2 separate regions of the Homo sapiens genome follow, and region 2 is linked to region 1. The links come from fine-mapping of genetic effects on gene expression. Tissue or cell type: whole blood. Region 1 holds a variant in brackets; the other region holds the start of a gene. All regions are shown on one strand. Distances are from middle to middle.

Region 1 (8,201 bases):
CCACCTCGCCTGGCTAATTTTTGTATTTTTTGTGGAAATGGGGTCTATGCTATGTTGCCCAGGCTGGTATTGAACTCTTGGGCTCAAGTGATTTGCTCACCTCGGCCTCCCAAAGTGCTAGGATTACAGGTATAAGCCACCACACCTGGCCAGAAATAATGTTTTAAAAGCATGACAGGAAGTTTCCAGTCAATAAGTTTAATGTCAGGGTTGGTCAGACCATACTATACATGCTGTGAGACTTTTTCATCCTATCAGGTTTATTACATTTATTGTACATTATTGATTTAGAAACTCATAAACTACCTTTCGTTAAAATTACATTTTCAACCAAAGCAAGTTATTGGAAATAAAAAGCACTGTAGGAATTATATATATATGTACATATATACATACATATAATTGTATATATGTACATATATGTTATATATGTACATATAATATATGTAAATATATAATTATATATGTATATTATATATGTGCATATATACACAAAATATACAAATATATGTTTATATGCACATATTTAATTATATATTATATTAATTATATTAATATATTAATTGTATAGTAATATAATTAATATTAATATATTAATATAATATAGTATATTAATATAAAATTATATATGTGCATATATACATATATTTGTATGTTATATATGTATATATTTATATATAAATATGTATTTATGTTTGTATATATTTATATAAATATACATTTATATATAAATACATATATACATATAAACATATATATTTACATATAAATATATTTATATGTATATATTTAAATATATATAAATGTATACTTATACATTTATATATTATATACAAACATATTTATATACATTTTATATATATTTATATATTTTGATTTTTTATCACACTAGAAAACTGATCAATTAAAACAGAAAACTCCTATTTAAACTTGAAGCTTTACTACTTCAGTAATTTTATCATATAATACTATTTTAACATTGTAATAACATTGTAATATTTGCTTTGGCCAATACTGCCTGAAAGTAAACTCATGGCTATATTCTTAAAACCTAGATATGTCCTAAATTTCTGAATAAAAAGGGATAGACTAGTGCTTTTTATAGAATTTTATACTTTTTGTAAAAACATTCACCAAAGTAAATAAGATACAATTTGACTATATTTATTTTAATTATAAGAAGACACTTTTTGGGCATTTTCCTTCCAATCTACATGGACTCTCATCCATTCTTCTAACTGAGCACTTAGTGCAGCAGATGGCTAGAGAACATGGATGGGGTTAGCTACACCTATGTTCCCCTGAGAATCACACGAGCTAGTCCCTAGTCTGTCTTCTTTGGGGGTTTAGAGATTGGCAGGGATTGCTAGGGTCTGGTAGCATCACCTAATTCACTGGGTCCAATTTCCATTTTTCTTTAGTATGAGGGACTATATTGTGGGTCAAATGAGAAGAAGAAACGAATGTGTATGAAAGAACCCAGAGAAGAAACAGTGCTCGGTGGTTTTCAAGTTTTCAACTCTGGCTGCACTTTCCGCTAACTTGGGCAGCTTTAAAACCGTGATGCCTGGACTCCGCCCCAGTGCAGCTGAATCACAGTTTGCATTCATTGCACAAAGTATTGTTTAGAAGGTGCTTTTAGGAGTATCTTGCAGTGATCTTATAGGGCTGAGGAAGTTTGCCCATGCAGGGAGGCAGGACTTGCTTCATTTTCAAGAGACGCGGAAGTCGGGCAGCAACCTTCCCTGTTAGTTCATTGTTGTGTTTTTAGTCACAAAACAGGTCCTGGTGCATAATAAGTCTAAATAAATATCTGTTGAATAAATAAATGACAAAGTATAAAGACTAAGCTGTGTTTTCTCCTCATGGTAGGGATATGCACTCTAGGTTCTCTCTTCAAATGTGCAGCAGATTTCTCTTTAGCCATTCCACTCGCAAACTGGCATCTGTCTGACAGGCGATGTCTTAAGTCTTTTCTTATTGAACGCTATTTTATTTCTTGATGTTTATTATGGAAAGAGTAGATGATGTTTCATGTATTATTTTCTGATTAATAAATGAAAATTAGATTTTATGTTATGTTAAAATAACGTTAAGAGATTTTACTGAATAATCTATGTTTTGAGTAGATAAATTAACCGCAAAATAAAACCATTTTCATTTACCCTTTCTTCCCATCCAGAAATCAAAATGTTGTGGTCAAAATGTTCCTGATGCAAAGGATGAAGACTGTTCTTGGATAAAATCAATGTCCTGGGATACAGATACACAAAATATAAAAATCTCATAGGGCACTGAAGACATCTATGACACTGACCACAAGTGTGATCTTCCATGGTCCCAACTTTCAGAAAAGGAAGAATGACCCGGCTGAGGGAGTTCAATGGGACTGTGTTAACTGACATATTCCAATAGAAAGAAACGTATGATGCTTTAACAACTTACATGAACATTATTAACGTAATGGCTAATACTTTATCCATGAATGATACTGAAGTGATTCCATGCTGTAATATAAGGATTTGCTAAAATTACATTATAATTTATAATGTTACATCATATATACATATTTTACTCATCTGTAATTTTGTTAGAAATAATTTTAGCAGTTACTTCACAAGAAATGAAAAGTATTAGAAATAAAAAATTTGTATATTCATGAGTGCTTTGTGTAGTTTTCCTTTAAGGTACTATATAGATAGCTTTCACTGACTATTAAATTTTTTTTCCCAAATAGAGGAAATTATACACACACACACGCAAAATTTCCTTAGCACTTAGCACTTGGCACACTTAAGTGTCTGGTACAGATGTGTGTGTGTATATAAAATCAGAAGTAGATGAGCCATTTCAGGGATATTTTATTGCCTATACTAATTGAAAAATGGGACCTGAAATTTTAAGTTTGGAATGATAAATTTTCTTTAGTATTAGGGACTTGGATTAGGAAAAATCCAAGCATACAACTTTTTGGCTACTACTACTGCTGAAAAAACAAAAGAATCACATACATAGACAGTGTTCTCTTGCAACATTCTGGGAAGACTATGACATTCTCGTATCATGTAAACTGTTACTCCATTTTCTTTACTTATGTGGAAGTAGCTCTATAACTAATTAAATCTTGTGTGAAACGTGTGAATGCAGTCACTTCTTTCTTTTTTTTGAGATGGAGTCTTGCTCTGTCGCCCAGGCTGGAGTGCAGTGGCACGATCTTGGCTCACTGCAAGCTCCAGCTCCCAGCTTCACACCATTCTCCTGCCTCAGCCTCCTGAGTAACTGGGACTACAGGCACCCGCCACCATGCTCGGCTAATTTTTTTGTATTTTTAGTAGAGATGGGGTTTCACCATGTTAGCCAGGCTAGTCTTGAACTCCTGACCTCGTGATCTGCCCGCCTTGGCCTCCCAAAGTGCTGGGATTACAGGCGTAAGCCACTGTGCCTGGCCAGTCACTTCTCATTTTACTTTTTTTTTTGAGACAAGGTCTTGCTCTGTCACTCAGGCTGGAGTGCAGTGGTGGTATCATAGCTCACTACAGCCTCAAGCTCCTGGGCTCAAGAGAACCACCTGCCTCAGCCTCCCAAGTAACTGAGACTACAGGGGTGTGCCACCATGCCTGGCTAATAAAAGAAAAACATTTTTTATTTGTATTTTTTTCAAAGCCAGGGTCTTACCATCTTGCCTAGGCTGGCCTTGAACTCCTGGGCTCAAGTGATCCTCCTTCCTGCCTTGGCCTCCCAAAGTGCTGGGATTACAGGCGTGAGCCACTGTGCCTGCCCCTACAGTGATTTTTTAAAAAAGTAAATCCTCCCTTCTATTCTACCATCTATTTCTTCAGTTTTCCTACAATTTTTTTGACCATGTCATCTGTTTCCTCCAATGTCTCCTCTTCCTTCCTTCTCCTTCAACTGCATTCTCATTGACCTGAGAATTTCTCTACTCTTTCAATTTCTGAGGTCTCATTCATTTTTCAGTGTTCAGTTCTCAGATGATGTCCCAAAACCCATCCAGTTTCTCAGGCCCTGACTCTTCTTTGCCACCCCGACAGCTTATATCTACACCCCAGAAGCTGATTCTCCACGGCTGGAGCTGACCAGATTCCAGATCACAGTCGCCACACTCCCAACCTGCTAACTGGCTGCTCCTCTCTCTTCCCTGTTCCTATGACAAGCATCGATATTCTTCAGTCTCCCACGGGCTCTACTCCTAAGCAGGGAGGCCCTCAAGGGCTATTCCTGCATTGTTCTGTACTAGAGTGTGAGCTTCATGTGGGCAAGGCTCAGGTCTGTTGTGATCAATGCTGTCAGCCCAGGGTCTAGAGCAGTAGTGCCCAGGATGGAACAAACATGCAGCGTGAATTTTTGTACAAATGACATGAACAGCTCCATCTATTCATGACATACCACATACCTTTGCTTTGCCACATG[A/G]ATTTTAAAAATATATTAAAGTAGAAAATTATCTCAATAGATGCAGAAAAAGCCTTCGATAAAATTCAACACCCTTTCATGCTAAAAACGCTCAATAAACCAGGTACTGATGGAACGTATCTCAAAATAATAAGAGCTATTTATGACAAACACGCAGCCAATATCATACTGAATGGGCAAAACCTGGAAGCAGTCCCTTTGAAAACCAGCACAAGACAAGGATGCCCTCTCTCACCACTCCTATTCAACATAGTGTTGGAAGTTCTGGCCAGGGCAATCAGGCAAGATAAATAAATAAAGGGTATTCAAATAGGAAGAGAGGAAGTCAAATTATCTCTGTTTGCAGATGACACAATTGTATATTTAGAAAACCCCATTGTCTCAGCCCAAAAACTCCTTAAGCTGATAAGCAATTTCAGCAAAGTCTCAGGATACAAAATAAATGTGCAAAAATCATAAGCATTCCTATACACCAATAATAGAGAGTCAAATCATGAGTGAACTCCCATTTACGATTGCTACAAAGAGAATAAAATACTTAGGAATAAAACTTAAAGTGATGTGAAGGACCTCTTCAAGGAAAACTACAAACCATTGTTCAAGGAAATAAGAGAGGACACAAACAAATGGAAAAAAATTCCATGCTCATGGATAGGAAGAATCAATATCGTAAAAATGACTATACTGCCCAAAGTAATTTATAGATTCAACGCTATTTCCATCAAGCTACAATTGACTTTCTTCACAGAATTAGAAAAAACTACGTTAAATTTCATATGGAACCAAAAAAGAGCCCATATAGCCAAGCAAAAAGAACAAAGCTGGCGGCATCATGCCACCTGACTTCAAACTATACTACAAGGCTACAGTAAAAAAACAGCTTGGTACTGGTACCAAAACAGATATATAGACCAATGGAACAGAACAGAGGCCTCAGAAATAACACCACACATCTACAACCATCTGATCTTTGACAAACCTGACAAAAACAAGCAATGGGTAAAGGATTCCCTATTTAATAAATGGTGTTGGGAAAACTGGCTAGCCATATGCAGAAAACTGAAACTGGACCTCTTCCTTACACCTTATACAAAAATTAACTCAAGATGGACTAAAGATTTAAATGTAAGGCCTAAAACCATAAAAACCCTAGAAGAAAACCTAGGCAATACCATTCAGGACATAGGCATGGGCAAAGACTTCATGACTAAAACACCAAAAGCATTGGCAACAAAAGCCAAAATAGACAAATGGAATATAATTAAACTAAAGAGCTTCTGCACAGTAAAAGAAACTATCATCAGAGTGAACAGGCAACCTACAGAATGGGAGAACATTTTTGTAATCTATCCATTTGACAAAGGGCTAATATCCAGAATCTACAGGGAACTTAAACAAATTTACAAGAAAAAAACAACCCCATCAAAAAGTGGGCGAAGGATATGAACAGACACTTTTCAAAAGAAGACATTTATGCAGCCAACAAACATTAAAAAAAAAGCTCATCATCACTGGTCATTAGAGAAATGCAAATCAAAACCACAATGAGATACCATCTCATGCCAGTTAGAATGGCGATCATTAAAATGTCTGGAAACAACAGATGCTGGAGAGGATGTGGAGAAATAGGAACACTTTTACACTGTTGGTGGGAGTGTAAATTAGTTCAAACATTGTGGAAGACAGTGTGGCAATTCTTCAAGGATCTAGAACTAGAAATACCATTTGACTCAGCAATCCCATTACTGGTTATACACCCAAAGGATTATAAATTATTCTAATATAAAGATACATGCACACGTATGTTTATTGCAGCGCTATTCACAACAGCAAAGACTTGGAAACAACCCAAATGCCTATCAATGATAGACTGGATAAAGAAAATATGCCACATATACACCATGGAATACTATGCAGCCATAAAAAAGAATGAGTTCATGTCCTTTGCAGGGATATGGATGAAGGTGGAAACCATCATTCTCAGCAAACTAACACAGGAACAGAAAACCAAACACCACATGTTCTCACTCATAAGTGGGAGTTGAACAATGAGAACAATGAGGGCATGGGGTGGTGAACATCACACACTGGGGCCTGTCAGCGAGTGGAGGCAAGGAGAGGGGTAGCGTTAGGAGAAATAAGCAATGTAGATGACGGGTTGATGGGTGCAGCAAACCACAATGGCACATGTATACCTATGTGACAAACCTGTACGTTCTGCATATGTATCCCAGAACTTAAGTATAATTAAAAAAAAGAAAAAAGAAAATAATAACCAATATTTGTGGATCACTGTTTTCTGCATTTGATACTTATCTGCTTTATTTCTTACAAAAACCTTATGATGAGGCAGAGGGAACATATTGTTAAATTTCCACTTTAGAAATGTTAAACTGAGACTCGATGGGCAAGTAATGAGTCTAATTTCTTCACCTGAATTTGGTTTCATCTTCTCTTAACTTCTTACAGACTTTGCTTCATCTAGAATCTCCTATTGGCTTTGTCTCATGTGACTGTCCCCTGCTTTCAACTCCCACTCTCTCAATGGCTTACTCTCTCTTGCCTAACAATTGGAATATTGTACTAATTAACCTCCTATTTCTTTTTTCTTTTTTTCTCTTTTTTTTTTTTTTTTTTTTTTTTGAGACAGGGTCTTGCTTTGTCACCCAGGTTGGAGTACAGTGGCTTGATCTCGGTGCACTGCAACCTCTGCCTCCCAGGCTTAAGTGATCCTCCTGTCTCAGCCTCCCGAGTAGCTGGGACCACAGGCTAGTGCCACCATGCCCTGATTCTTGTATTTTTTTGCAGAGACAGGGGTCTCACTATGTTGCCCAGGCTGGTCTCGAACTCCTGGGCTCAAGCAATCCACCCATGTTGGGATTACAAGCATGAGCTACCATGCCTGGCCCTATTTCCATTCTTAACAAAATTCTATTTTATACTTCTACCAGAATTACCTTCAAAAAATACAAATTTGATGTCATTCTTCTTAAAAACTACAATAGTTTCCCTGACCTCCCAGAAGATTTCATCTTTTCCCAGACATGGTAATACAGAAACTAGAATAAAACAATTTCTATAATCCAGATTGAAGAGTAATGAAAAAATAATTTGGTACAAGAAATTTTCAATTAGCCTTCACAGTGCAGGGAGTATGGTTTCAGTATCTTTTGAAAGTAACATGTATTGGCCGGGCGCAGTGTCTCATTCCTATAATCCCAGCACTTTGGGAGGCCAAGGCGGGTGGATCACCTGAGGTTGGGAGTTCAAGACCAGCCTGACCAACATGGTGAAACCCTGTCTCTACTAAAAATACAAAATTAGCCGGCCGTGGTGGCACATGCCTGTAATCCCAGCTACTTGGGAGGCTGAGGCAGGAGAATCGCTTGAACCCGGGAGGTGGAGGTTGCAGTGAGCCGAGATTGTGTCATTGCACTCCAGCCTGGGCAACAAGAACAAAACTCCATCTCAAAAAAAAAAAAAAAAAAAAAAAAAGAAAGTGACATGCATTTTTCCATATAACAATTTGAAAGACACAAGCTTCAAATGGCATTCATTTTATGTGTGTAGAGGTATTATAGTAATAGTTAATACAGCTATGCATAAGATGTACTTAGGGCTGATGTGTCTAGCTAGCTAAAGGCAATACTGCTTATTACTATTGCTCTCATATTAAAAATTAACATTTTGTGAAAAACACACAATGCACTAGAATGGCCTTGGTTAAACCATCAGGCGGAGCCAGTCTACAGATAATGCTGCCTCAATTCCTA
Region 2 (8,161 bases), 50 kb after region 1:
GGATTACAGGCGTGAGCCACCGTGCCCATCCTTCTTCTTTTACTTTTAAGGCCCCACTGTGATTCTACTGGGCCCACCTGGATAAGCCAGGCTAATTTCCCATCTCAAGATCTCCCATCTCAAGATCCTTAATGTAATCACATCTCAAAGTCCCTTTTACCACATAACATGTTCACAGGTTCTGGGGACTAGGAAGAGGACATCTTTGGGGAATCATTATTCTGCCCTCTACGGTGATTTTAAACCTTATTTGACCTGAGTAAAAATAAAAATAAAAAAAAGGTATGTTCTAAGGTTTTAATTCATTTGCATTAAAAATGTTATTTTATTGGAAGGGTTATATATCCTTTACCAAAGGATTTGTAAAATGAGGGAATGTCATTATCACAATTGTCTTTTCACACATGCCTAAAGGTGAATTTAATGGCATTTATGATCACCCAACTACCAAGAAATACATAAAAGATGTATTACATTCTCTTGTTTGTAAATGAGAAGACTAGTATTCAAATGTTCTCTTTCAGCTTTATAATCCTATGAAAAGGTGGAAGTTCTTGATTCACATTAGACTTGTGTTAAATTTCTAGACCCTTTCAAAGGAAAAATCAGATACTCCCATTTCTGTATTTGTGTAACTGACTTCTCATACCTAAGTAAAACTTCACAGCTTTCCAATTAAGTTTCATTTTTTGGTTTCAGCCCAGTTATATATACCCAATCAAGATAATTTAGAACCTTGACTCCCTTCAGTCATAAGTTAGTTATCCATTCCAGCCATGTGTCATCTGAAAAACTGAAGATTTATCCAGTTCAACATAAAATTTTGAACATGAAAGAACTAAACGACATTCTAGGATAGAGACAGATTGACACAAAAGCATACTCTTTTTGGATATGGTCATTTAGTTACTCACCAGCAAGTACTAAAAGTACTGCTGTGGTCTGGATATGGTTTGTCGTCTCCACTAAAACTCACATGGAAATTTAATTTCCAATATGGCAGTGTTGGGAAGTGGGGCCTAGTGGGAGGTGTTTGGAACATGGGTGGATCCCTCATGAATGGCTTGGCACCAGTTCTCGCAGTAGTGAGGGAACTCTTACTCTCAAGAGACTGGATTAAGTTCTCACAGGACTAGTTCCAGAGACAGCAAGTTGCTACAAAATGAGGTACTTCCTCCTGTTTGGCCACTTCCCACGGATCTGCTTCCCCTTTGACCTTCTCCATCATGTTATGAAACAACAAGAAAAGCCCTCACTAGAAGGCAAGCAGATGCCAGCACCATGCTCTTGTACTTCTCAGTCTGCAGAGCTGTGAGCTAAATAGATCTCTTTATAGACTATCCAGTTTCAGATACTCTGTTAGAGCAACATAAGATGGATTAAGACAAGTACTCTCCTGAACACTTTTTTTTTTTTTTTTTTGAGACAGAGTTTCGCTTTGTCGCCCAGGCTGGAGTGCAGTGGCGTGATCTTGGCTCACTGCAACCTCCGCCTTCTGGGTTTAAGTGATCCTCCTGCGTCAGCCTCCCAAGTACCTGGGATTACAGGTACATGCCACCATGCCCGGCTACTCTCCTGAACACTTAAAAAATATTTTATTCATAAGGATATCAGAGGAGAATATTATCCTTATCCATAAGCAAATTATGGATAAAATATCAGTATTTTATCCATTAGGATATCAATGATTATGATTTGTAAGATAATACTTCCTCAAAATTGAGATTTTTCTGTCTTGTGCATTACTCAGATATACTAATAAACTAATCAATAGATTACTTCAATATACTAATCAACTATCAAAAAAGTTGTTCCTAATGAACCACCATTGATTCTTGTTTCTAATCTGTTGGTCTGATTGGATAGTAATGATTTGTAAGCAACCACTTAAAGGCACCAGAAAGTGTTTTTGGAAGGATTAGAAAATTTTAAAATTGAATCCTTTTCTAATATAAATGATCACTCTTCAAATTTAAATTTTCTATTTTAGTTTTCTTACAGTGATAGACATCTCTTATAGAAAAAGAATTTGTTAGAACAAGATAATTATGAATTTAGAAAGAGCGTTTGAAATAAGCATCAATAATTACATTGTTGATGTTCAATCATCAGTTTGACAATTCGTATTAAGTGCTTACTATGTACCAGGCATTGTACTAGGTGAACAAAAGATGCAAAAGTTCCTGCATCCATGGAGCTTGCATTCCTATAAAGTTCTGCTGAATTCAACATTTGAGGCTTATGGAAAGAACTTTAGAGAACCGTTTAACTTTAAGAGAACTTTAAGAGTTTATGTTTTTTTTGCTGGGTGTGGTGGCTCAGGCCTGTAATCCCAGCATTTTGGGAGGCCGAGGCGGGCGGATCATGAGGTCAGGAGATCGAGAGTATCCTGGCTAACATGGTGAAACCCCGTCTCTACTAAAAAAATACAAAAAAAAAAAAAAAAAAAAAAAGAGCCGGGCGTGGTGGCGGGCGCCTGTAGTCCCAGCTACTTGGGAGGCTGAGGCAGGAGAATGGCGTGAACCCGGGAGGTGGAGGTTGCAGTGAGCCGAGATTGTGCCACTGCACTCCAGCCTGGGCGACAGAGCGAGACTCCGTCTCAAAAAAAAAAAAAGAAAAAAAAAAAGGCTTATGTTTTGTTTTTTTTCTTTCCTATGTATGTTTGAATATTTGCAACTGTTCATGGATGTAAAAACACAAACTGCCGTCCGGGCGCGGTGGCTCACGCTTGTAATCCCAGCACTTTGGGAGGCCGAGGCGGGCGGATCACTTGAGGCCAAGAGTTTGAGACCAGCCTGGCCAACGTGGCAAAACCCTGTCTCTACTAAAAATACAAAGATTAGCCGGGGGTGGTGGAGGGCGCCTCTAGTCCCAGCTACTTGGGAGGCTGAGGCAGGAGAATCGTTTGATCGGGGAGGAGTGGGGGAGGGGGGCGGAGGTTGCAGTGAGCGGAGATCGCGTCATTGCAGTCCAGCCTGGGCGACAAGAGCGAAACTCCGTCTCAAAACAACAACAGCAACCACCACCACCACCACCACCACCACCACAAAAAACCAATCTGTGGTCCTGCATGGAAGAATAATCTTACTCCTGCTCAAAGCCTGCCGAAGAGATTTACTCGGCTCCCATTTTGGATATGCTACTGTTGGATATCTTTGCACCGCGGTCTCCTCATCTGCATAATGGAGTTATAAAATCAACTTCACAGCACTGTGGATTAACTAAGAAAACGTATTTGAATGCCCCCCGTAAGGTGCTCAGCACGTAGTTGGCCCTCAATACACACTGGTACAATTCAAACTTTGTGAAATGAGCCAATTCGTGTACATGTTAAGGACCACGGCAGCAACTCATATCACTAAAAGTTAACTGATGCCCAACCCATGCCCCTTCCTGCTTCACTCCTCCACACCACGGGAGATTCCTTAGGGCAGAACTTTTATTTCGGCAGAGTGCAGCCAAGGGAAGACAGCATAAGCAGCTTTTTTGCCAGGGCGAAGGGGCCAGACCCCGGCCTGGGGATGGGGTGCAAGTATGGACCACACAGGGGCTGGCTTGGTCACTCACGGCTGCGTCAGGCTGTCCCGGTAACGGCTGCGCTGGCAGGGCAGTGCTCGGGGCCGGCTGGTGTAGGTGTAGGTGCTCGGGGCCCGAGAGGTGCGATCAGTCAGCGCTGAGGCCATGTCCGGGGGCTGACTGCCTCGCTTTCGGTGGAGCTTGGCTTTGAAGCAGGTGGGCGCTAAGGTGTTGTGGGACCCGGAGAGATGTAAGTAGTGCCAAGGGCAAGGATTCCGCGACGCGAGGAGAGGCGACAACAAGGGAGGCGGGCGGGACGGGAGGTTACCAGCGCAGGAGGTGGGAGCTATACTGGGCTCGCTCCCAGCACCACAGAGACCAGCTGCGGGGGCCGCATCGGTTGCCCAGCAACCCAGGGTTCTGTCTGGGGGCGGGAACTCCGGGCAGTTCCGGTCCCCAGGTTTCCCGGGAAGGACTGCGGCACAAGGGACTTCCGGCTCTTGACTCCGCCCAGCCGCGCCACCCAGGTAGGTGCGCCTGCGCTTTGCGAGGTTCCTGGCTAGGGAGGCGGCCTTGGCTGGCTTGACCGTCATCCTTGAGGCCTGCGGGGCAACGGTGGCTGTCCTTGGCCCGGCTTTGGAATGTGGCTTTGCAGGGCTGGTGTTGGCGCCATTCTCGCAGGCCCACGTGCTCCTGCTCTTCCAGGGTGTCCTCGGCTGTTTCTCCTGCCGCGGCGCAGCAGCGCTCCCAGGCTGCCCCCGCGATAACACGCCCCTGGCAGCCAGGCTCCCAGCTCTGTTACGTGCCCGGGCGGGGAAGAGCTTCCTGGTGTCTCCCGGCTCCTGCCCTTCTCCCGCCCCAGGGGCGGGCTGCCGCCGCCCTCTGCAGCTGAGTCAGTGCAGTTCCTCACCTACCTTCTCTGCTCACCGCTGTGTGCTAGCAATCGGAGGACCCTTGGCACACGGAGCGACAGGGGCCTCCCCCACAGACACCTCATTTTGGGAAAGAAGTGAGCAATTTATTGAGTCTTAAAAAATACAAAGGCATAGTTCCCCTTAATCTATCAGGCTTCCAGCTCTAAAGAATGTCTCTAGTATTGCGGGGTGGGGCTGCGCTTAAAAACGCAGACGCTTTGGTTTTAGTACCAGCAACGTTAAAAATCTTCTATCTTGTATGAGTGAATGTGTATCCCTTGTGATCAGTTATTTGCATTTGCAGTTACACCTTCATTCAGCTAATTGCTGTCTTGATTTGAATCCAGGTTCTAGAATGTACTAGCTCCGAAACCTCAGGCAAGTTAAATGTTTTTGTGCTTCATTTTCCTAATCCACAAAGTGGCAATAGAAGAATTTATCTCTTTAGGTTTTGTCTTGAGGATTAAAACCGTTAATACTTAGAGCTGTGCCTGGTAAATGGCAAGCCTTTATATTAAGATCTGGACCGTTCTGTGCTTTGAAGTGTATGACCTAAAGCAGATGTAGGCATTCTATAAGTAACACTAGCATAAAGGTGTATGGTAAATTCTAGAGGTGAAAACACTCCCAACATATTTTAGGTCTGATCATTTAATTTTGAGGTAATTTCTGAAAGGGCTAGAGGAGAAAGTGACATTTAAGTTGTGTTTGATAAATGATAGTATTTTAACTGGCCAGCCTCTTGGGGGAAGTGCATTCGGAATGGCTTGATCAAAGGCTCAAGAAGCCCAAGGTGCATTTGGAAAACTGTAAGCAAGGTTTGTGTAGATGAGTTGTAGAAATATATATAGACAGGCTGACACCACATCGTGGAAACAGTAAACACTAGCATATTAATTAGAATATTTTTTCCCTCAAGTAACAAAAAACCAATTCCAAGTGGCTGAAATAATAAGGAATTCATTATTTTACACTCCCCAGGTTGGTTAACCTGGAGGGTAACTTGGGGGCTCAGCACATTATCAACAACACGTTTTTTCCCCTACCTTTCCACTCTGTCACCTGGGTTGTTGGCTTCAACAAAGTAGTAATAGAAGTATCTGCTCTTTTGTCTTTATTGGAAGAGCAAAACCCCCTCGTAAACTCCCAACTGACCAGAATTACATCATATTGATTTAAGCTTAGGATCTATATAAGACCACCATATTTGGATTAGACCAGGTAACCGGTCTTTCTAGGCCTCCAAGAAACACTTGGCCAGGGAGGAGGAGAACAAATTCTGTTAGGAGGATGTTGGGGCAGAATTGAGTGGGTATTAAGTGGGTAAACAATAGTGCTATACCAGCCACAGTGGGCTTTATAAAGAAATTGATAGCCACTATAGGTTCTTGTACAAGTTTCTTTCTTTTTTTTTTTTTTTAGATGGAGTCTCGCTCTGTGGCCAGGCTGGAGTGCAGTGGCGCGATCTTGGCTCACTGCAACCTCCGCCTCCCCGGTTCAAGTGGTTCTCCTGCCTCAGCCTCCTGAGTAGCTGGGACTACAGGCGTGTGCCACCCCGTCCAGCTAATTTCTGTATTTTTAGTAGAGGCGGGGTTTCACCATGTTGGCCAGGATGGTCTTGTTCTCTTGACCTGGTGATCCGCCCTCCTCAGCCTCCCAAAGTGTTGGGATTACAGGCGTGAGCCACTGTGCCTGGCCTGTACAAGTTTTTATCCACAGCCTGTTTCTCTTCTTGTACTTTCTCCCAGGGCAGTCCCATTTCACGTCTGTAATTTCTAGTACCACCTATATACTCAGGGTAGCAAAGGATGTATCTCTAACCTAGACTTCTCCCTCAGGTGACAGTCCTGGATATCTGACTATTTTGTGGACAACTCTTGGATGATCTGAAACTGAAAGATTCATTCCACAAATAGTTATGTGTATCTAGTATGTGCCAAGCATTGTTGTTTTCTTGTCCCTCGTCCCCACTCCCCTGGTGTTAGTGGGGATATAGCAGTGAAAAACAAAAACAAACAACAGATTAAAAGTCCTGCCTTGACAGAATTTATATTCTAGTGGAGGAGTCATACAAACAAGAAAAGTGAGTACATTATGGGTGTTACATAATTATAATAGCTAATTCGAAATAAAGCAGGAAATAAGGCTAGGTGCTAGGGGCATGGGAGACCTATCAATTTTATAGTGGTCAGAGAAGGCTTCATTGAGAAGGTGACATTTGAGTAAAGACTTGAAGGAGGTGAAGAAATGAAACTTGAGACTTGTGACTAATTGTCACAGCATTCCAGGTCAAGGAAGCAGCCAATTCCTCGTTCTAAGGCAGGAAGTCGTGTTGGGGATGGCAGTAAGAGTGAGTGGAGCAGAGTGAGCACAAGGAGGAGCATTCGGAGATGAAGTCAGAGGCTGGGCCGTGCGCCCTGTTGTAGGTCAGTGAAAGGACTTTAGGTTTTACTCTAGGGTTAAAAGTCCCTAAAGGGTTTTGAGTAGAAGCTTGACATAGTTTGATTAAAAAAATTTGTTTTTTCTAGTTGTTTGGTTGAGAATAGACTGAAGTGGGGCAAAGGCAGAAGCAGAGAGACCAGATAGGAAGCTGCTCCCAATAAGGCTGGTGAGAGGGTGGCTTGGATCTGGTGTAGGTGTGGTGCTCGGGCCCGAGAGATGCAGTGAGTCAGTGCCGAGGCCATGTCGGGGGACAGACTGCCTTGCTTTCAGTGGAGCTTGGTTCTGGATCTGGGACAAAAGTGGTGGGAAGATCCCAGCTCAATTTTGAAGGTAGAACAGATTGGACGTGACGTGGTGCACGAGAGAAAGAAAGGCAAAAGAGATGAACCTAAGGTTTCTGATTAAATGTTAGACATTGTGTAGGAAAAAAATCACATAGAGGCTCTGGCAAAAAAAAAAAAACTAAATAAATAAATAAAAAATAAATAAATAAATTGCATAGAGACTGTGGCTGATGTTGTGTTTCTCCAGAAAGGATTTAATTTTATTCTGGCAAGCAATTAGAGTAGGAACGGATGACTTTTTTTTTTTTTTTTTTTGAGGCGGAGTTTTGCTCTTGTTGCCCAGGCTGGAGTACAATGGCACTGTCTTGGCTCACTGTGGCCTCCACCTCCCGGGTTCAAGCAATTCTCCTGTCTCACCTCCCAGGTAGCTGGGATTACAGGTGTGCACCACCATGCCCGGCCAATTTTGTATTTTTTTAGTAGAGACTGGGTTTCACCATGTTGATCAGGCTGGTCTCGAACTCCTGACCTCAAGTGATCCACCTGCATTGGCCTCCTAAAGTACTGGGATTACAGGTGTGAGCCCCTGCGCCTGGCCTCAGATGACCTTTAATTAGGGATTCAGACTTTGTGAGGGCTGATCATTTTCTAGTTTGGCCTTATCCCAGAGCTAGGCCTTTCTATTCTTTCTCAACATGAACATCTGTGGTATTTAACAGGTCCCCATCTTTGGGTGACCTTGAACTCCAATTTTTGTACTCCCAGCTCTGTGAGACTGTTGAAATGTACACTTAGCATTTTAGCTATTTAGCAACTGTTTGGTTTCTTGATTTCCAGTGCCCTTACAGCTTAGAATTCAGCAAATGCCTCAAGGATAAAAGCCAAACTAAATGTCAGACTGGCTTCTCTATGATCCTCCTTTCTTTGGGATCTGTCCCTTCAAGTCCTATCCGCAGTTTTCAACTCCAATTTTTTATCTCCCCGTATCTGAAAGGGCCCTGATAC

Evidence for each region. PIP is the estimated chance that this variant, and not a neighbour inherited with it, causes the effect.
Region 2: RSPH3 starts here. The variant in region 1 is fine-mapped to the expression of RSPH3 in whole blood (INTERVAL, PIP 0.97).

Annotation. Positions count from the first base shown.
Region 1 is chr6:158,945,864-158,954,064 of GRCh38, forward strand. No RefSeq gene overlaps it. Among named protein-coding and RNA genes, the nearest start is that of TAGAP-AS1, 50 kb to the right of the region's middle. The variant A/G (reference allele first, on the strand shown) is at 4,429.
Region 2 is chr6:158,995,868-159,004,028 of GRCh38, forward strand. It overlaps RSPH3 (radial spoke head 3), which reads right to left and starts at 4,335. Exons shown (of 8, transcript NM_031924.8): 1 at 3,568-4,335. The coding sequence starts at 3,683. It overlaps TAGAP-AS1 (TAGAP antisense RNA 1), which reads left to right and starts at 4,006. Exons shown (of 5, transcript NR_183546.1): 1 at 4,006-4,525. RefSeq lists enhancers at 3,078-4,049, 3,534-3,683, 3,704-3,753, 3,784-3,853, 4,024-4,183 and 2 more.